Regions from separate parts of the Homo sapiens genome. Here region 1 is linked to region 2. The links come from fine-mapping of genetic effects on plasma protein levels. Region 2 holds a variant in brackets. A gene starts in the other region. All regions are shown on their forward strands.

Region 1 (2,916 bases), not on the chromosome of region 2:
ACAGCTGGAATTCAGTATCTGGTTGGTGGAAAGGAGTAGGGAACAAGGAGAGTCACTGAGAAACCTGGGTGGGCGCCAGGGCACAGGCTGGCAGAAGCTGGGGAAGACTCCTTAGCCACCCCACCTCTGCCTTCAGCAAGGACTTGCTCGGCAGCCTGCTCGAGGCACCAAGGAAAGGGGAGTGTTTCCAGATGAATGCCGTTGGCCCTCTGTATCTGTGGGTTCCACATCCGTGGATTCAACCAACCACAGATTGAAAATATTCAGAAAAAAAAAAAATTCACAACGTTCCAAAAAGGAAAACTTGAATTTGCTGTGTGCCAGTACTATGTGGAATCCATGTGAATGGAGTGAGGTGTAAGCATTGTGTTTGGTGTTATAGGTAATCTAGAGATGATTTGAAGTACACAGGAGGATGTGCGTAGGTTATGTGCAAATTCACCATTTTATATAAAAGACCTCAGCATATGTGGATTTGGTATCCACTGGACGTGCAGAACCAATCCCCCATGGTTACTGAGGGACGACTGTACATCTCTGAGGGTGCGGGAGAGGATACTTCCCAGGCCCCCGAGACCCTACACAATGTCTACTGGTGTTTATGATCCTTTCTAGGGCCCACCTCCCAATTTCCATTTGGTTTCCTCCTAGCAGATTTAGAGAATTTCCCGTATCCTCATGATCATCATCTGTGAACTTGAAGTTGGCTTTCAAATCCGATCTCATCCCCCATACACCTTCTCTTTGAACTACCTAGGCCTGCAGCTCCTGTCTCTGGTGATTTTATTCAATTATGGTCTCTGTGCTGGCGCTCTAGGTGAGGGTGAAGTGCCTCATTTCCACCTATTTTTATCTTTGGATTCTGGCTATGAAGCTGAAGCCTTGTCACTCTCTGGCTGGAGAAAGAAGCTGCAAAGACAAGCTCTATCTCTCCATATCCCCCGACTCCAGCCTTCTCTGAGGACTCAGAATCTGAGGGATGGGGCCCCTTCCTTGCAGGGGATGGCACTCCCTGTTCCTCAAAGATGTGGCCTTATCAGGAGAGTGGACAAGGAAAAGAAAGAAGGAGCTGACAGAGTAAGAGGAGAGAGAGCAGGAGCTGGAGGTGGGGGGTGAAGCGGAAGGTGGGGGGAGAATTCTCTTTTGTCAAATACAGGAATGGGGCAGGGGACCCCCTGAGGAAAGAGGAGGGGAAACAGCTGGACATCAGAAGGAATGAGAAGTCTGATTGGTCGCAGGCCTGGCCAACTCCTTGCCCTCCCCCGGGCACCACTGTCTAACCCAAGCCCCAGTTCAGACAGCCTCCACCAGAGTCCCCACCTTTCTGGAAGCTGCAGGGCTCTCCATCCAGGATCCAGAAGCATTGAAGGGGTAAGGCTCAAGGTTGAGGCCTCTGGCCATCGGTGCGCAAATGAGGGCAAAGTGTTTGGCTGGGGCAGGGGATTGGGAAGGGAAAATGAAGAGAGTTTAGGCCTCTGGCCAAAGAAGTTGGACAAGACTTTTGGGTGGGCACTAAACTCTCTTAGAAAAATTTTTTTTGAGATTATGTAATTCGTTTGGGGTGAGGTATGGGAGGTAAGGTGAAGAAACACCTCTTGCTACTGCTAGAGGCTTGCCCCCTTGCCCAGCTAAAATTAAGAAAGGGTGGGGAGGTTAACTGGGCATGGTAACACACGCCTGTAGTCCCAGCTACTTGGGAGGCTGAGGCAGGAGGACTGCCTGAGCCCAGGAGGTTAAGGCTTCAGTGAGCTGAGATCATGCCATAACACTCCAGGCTGGGCAACAGAGTGACACCGTCTTAAAAATAGAAAATAAAATAAAAATTAAAAGATAAAAAAAATTTTAAAAGAAAGAAAGAGGGAGAGTCTACTAGAAACTTGTGCAGCTAGCTTTGGGGAGGGCTGTGTTAAGCCTACACTGGGTATGACTGTTGTATACACTTATGCCTGGATACAAAACCACACCACATGCATTTCCTGACCCGTCTATACATATACGAACTACATGAACATTTGTACTCACATGCATATCACATACATACGCAGGCATCTGTGTGCACACACACACAAATATACACAGGTATCTAAGGAAATTTCCAGATGCGTACACACTCATGCAATCACACACAAAGAACTCTTTTATCTGTAATAATCTGTTTCTAAAAAGCTGCATTTAGAAGTATATTTCATAAACTAACATTCTTTTTTACATTGTATGTTTCATTGTAAGTCCATGTCTCCTAAAGAGACTAGGTGCTCCTAGGAAGGGCTGTGCCTCATTCATTCTGTACCCACAGAGACAAGTCCTGTGCCTGGAACTCAATAGACACCCATAAATGTTTGTTGAGCAAATGCATGAATGGATGATCTTTATAAAAAACCACAAGAGTCAACTGGGCGCGGTGGCTCACACCTGTAATTCCAGCACTTTGGGAAGCCAGGGTGGGTGGATCACCTAAGGTCAGGAGTTCGACACCAGCCTGGCCAATATGGTGAAACCCCTTCTCTACTAAAAATACAAAAATTAGCCAGGCATGGTGGGTGCCTGTAATCCCAGCTACTCAGGAGGCTGAGGCAGGAGATTCGCTTGAACCCAGAAGGCGGAGGTTGCAGTGAGCCAAGATCGCACCACTGCACTCCAGCCCGGGAAACAAGAATGAAACTTCGTCTCAAAAAAACAAACAAACAAAAAGACCCCATAAGATTATTTGATGTTGACATTCTCTAAATCGAGCTTAGTGACTAGCAGTCATGTTCTGAGCATGGGGTTGTTTAAGAGAGGACATCTGTGTGCATGCACCAGTGTGTGCCTCGTTTGTAAACAAGGGGACTCTTGTGAATGTGTCTGTGTTGAGATGTGTCTGCACATGCCTCTGTGAGTGAATATCAGTGTTTGGGTGAGCGTGTAAAAACACTC
Region 2 (2,916 bases):
ACTCTCTGAAAGATGAGCTCATATAAAAAAACCCTATAAACTACACTTGGGAAAAATACTTTGAGGCATTTCCAGGAGATGCAATAAATAGAAAAATTAGCAATAAAAGTAATAAAATAAAAGAATAGCATGAAAGAGGCCATAATGATTAAAGAATAATATCTAAACCTTTGTTGTGTTAAACCACTGAGATTTGGGGTTGTCATAGCAGGTAATGTCACCAAGACCTCAGTAGCCATTCTGCTTAAAAAAGAAACATCTAAAACATAATAATGCAGAAGTGTTGACAAGAAAGTGGTATTTTTAAAAAACAGAGAAATACTAAACACAAGAAAGCATTACAATATTATTATTATTTATCATTATTGTTAGTATTTTTTGGTACAGTCGTCCAGGCTGGAGTACAGTGGTGCAATCTTGGCTCACTGAAGTCTCCACCTCCTGGGTTTAAGCGATTCTCCTGCCTCAGCCTCCCAAGTAGCTAGGATTACAGGCACCTGCCACCATGCCCAGCTAAGTTTTGTATTTTTAATAGAGATGGGGTTTCACCATGTTGGCCAGCCTGGTCTCAAACTCCTGACCTCAGGTGATCTGCCTGCCTCAGCCTCCCAAAGTGCTGGGATTACAGGCATGAGCCACTGCACCTGGCCAGCATTACAGTATTAATGCCCAGCAAAACAGACTTCAGAAAAGGCATTATTAAGGCTAAAGAAAGTTATTATTTAGTGATACAAGGAATAATTCTTCAGAAGATGTAATAATTGAGAGCCAATGTGTTCTTAACAACATAGCCTCAAAATATGTAAAACAAAAATTGAAAATACATTATAAGGCAAAATAAATTTCATGGGGTAAAATCTGAGTATACCTCTCAAGAATTTATAAATTAATTTGAAAAGAAATATATAAGAATATGGCAGATCTGAACAATGCAGTAATATAGCTTGATCTAATGGAGAGATCTGCAGTCAATAAAAACACAGTTTTTTTTTTTTGAACTCACCAAAACTTACCATACGTGATGTCTCATAAAATACCAAAAGTCAACATCACATGTACTATATTCTCTGACTTCGGGGCCATACCTCTAGTTATCAATCACAAAAAGTCTCCAATCACAGTTTGGAGACTAAAAAACACACGTGTAAGTAACCAAACAATAAAGCCCTGCACATCCAAACTTGTGAAAGCAGCTAAAGAAGTTCCTAGAGGAAAATAAATAGCCTTAAGTTCAGATTTTAGGAAATAAGATGAACTGAATTAGCTAAGCATTCAACTCAGCCCAGGAAGTTATAAAAAGAAACATGCTCTTAGGTGACTTGATGCTATTTATGCTAAATCTTTGCACCTTCTCTAATGATCCTGAATACCACCAAATGGAGAAAGAACGGTGATAGAAATGGAAGTCTCCAATTTGAGAATGAAGCCCACGTATATTCGTAGATTGTGTGTTTCTGATACTTACATTTCTTCATATGGAAGGCTAATTGCAGTATGTGACAGAGAATGAAGGACAACAAATGCAGAACTTTTGGACATAAATGCACCTTCTTGCCTTTAGAACAGGTACAAAATTAAGCCCATTCTGCATTTTGTATTTTTTCAACGTATCTGAATCTGGAGGGATTTGACTGTTGTTGTAGGATTAGCTTTGCCTGAGATTAGGTTCTTTTTAACAGGAAATGAGCAGTGAGCCAAGAGCTGGCACACACATACCAGTAGCATTTCTAGATGGTAATGTTTCCTGACAGACAC[G/A]GATATCCAGCAGCAGGTGGCACCCCTTTTCAGGAATAACCACTTTTACAAGATTGGCCACTGAAATATATACCTCCATAAAAAGTAAAGTAGCAGGTCATGACATGGGGTCCATTGTTCTTTAGAAAAATACTGACGGTTATGCTGATATATTTTGGGAAAATGATTACATAAAGAGAAATATCTCTTGTGTTAAGAGTTCCTTAATACTCTCCTGGCTTCTTTCTAGTCTATTAAGATCTGCTGGACTGATAAGGTTGCTGTCTCTAGAAACAGAGATAAAAAGAAAAAAGAAAACACAAACAAAACCTTTCATGAGGTGCTTGCCTTCCCTCGTTAAGAATATCAATTAGCCTATGGGCTGGAGGACTGCCATTTGAGGGTTCTTGTCTGATAAAGTAGGCTGCTCCATTTAAGCCAGCAGTACATGGCACCCTGTGAACCACAGAGTACTTATCAAATTACTCAAAGTAGGAGGTGAGACTGAAGCAGCACTGAGCTTCACACTTTGCCTAATCAAGCTAATCCCAAGACAGGAAATGCTACAATAGGAAGCTGGGGTCAAGCCCATGAAATAACGCTCTTTAGCAACAGTTCGCTAACCCAGCTGGGCCTCTCTCATCCTAGAACAGGTAAGCACTGTGGCCAGGCAGGGAGAAGCATCTTAGAAGCCAGCCAGCTGAAGAGAGATGAAGGAGGGAGGTGAGAGCTGGAAACTGACTGCACACAGTAGGAAGATAAGCGCCGAGCACTCGCCCAGACACCTTCTTTAGGGAATGTGCAAAACTGCAGAAACCACAGCTAAACATTCTCAGGTTCTCAGAGGTGGGGGACACGACGCAGCCTCCTTACCCAGGGTCAGATTCTAAAATTCTGCAGGGAGCAAAAAAATCACTTGTAGCTCAATGATCCTCAAACATTTTCTTGAATTGTTCCCTGAATAGAGTGTACATGGTTTTGCATGTCAATTTTTTTTTCTTTTTACAGTGAGGCTTAAACATGAAAATTTGAGGAACGCTGAGCAGGAATAGAAGGAAAGCCTACATTTTTATCATTTCAACCTCTTTGCTTTTCAGAGAATAATTAACTCCTTGGCTGTGAATGATGGATGCATGGAGAATTCTACCTCTTGCCTGCAGGCTATTTGCTAGCTTCTTTTAA

Alleles and levels. Alleles are on the strand shown, and positions count from the first base shown. The strength of an association depends on the size of the effect and on how common the allele is.
For the plasma level of the protein whose gene starts at base 1,307 in region 1, A is the low allele of the variant in region 2 and G is the other (weak association).

Evidence for each region. A credible set is the group of variants that fine-mapping cannot tell apart. PIP is the chance, under the fine-mapping model, that this variant and not a neighbour inherited with it causes the effect. The UK Biobank Pharma Proteomics Project read protein levels with antibody pairs (Olink). The fine-mapping took linkage between variants from a reference panel, not from the people measured, so its PIPs are less certain.
Region 1: it holds the start of OPTC, and the variant in region 2 is the best candidate, but not a certain one, in a credible set for the plasma level of the OPTC protein (UK Biobank, PIP 0.76).

What each region holds. Positions count from the first base shown.
Region 1 is chr1:203,492,847-203,495,762 of GRCh38, forward strand. It overlaps OPTC (opticin), which reads left to right and starts at 1,307. Exons shown (of 8, transcript NM_014359.4): 1 at 1,307-1,371. RefSeq lists a silencer at 800-1,028.
Region 2 is chr9:76,660,893-76,663,808 of GRCh38, forward strand. All of the region lies in intron 9 of PRUNE2 (prune homolog 2 with BCH domain), which reads right to left. LOC105376095 (a long non-coding RNA gene) reads left to right here. Exons shown (of 12, transcript XR_007061586.1): 12 at 2,743-2,916. Among named protein-coding and RNA genes, the nearest start is that of PCA3, 100 kb to the right of the region's middle. The variant G/A (reference allele first, on the strand shown) is at 1,756.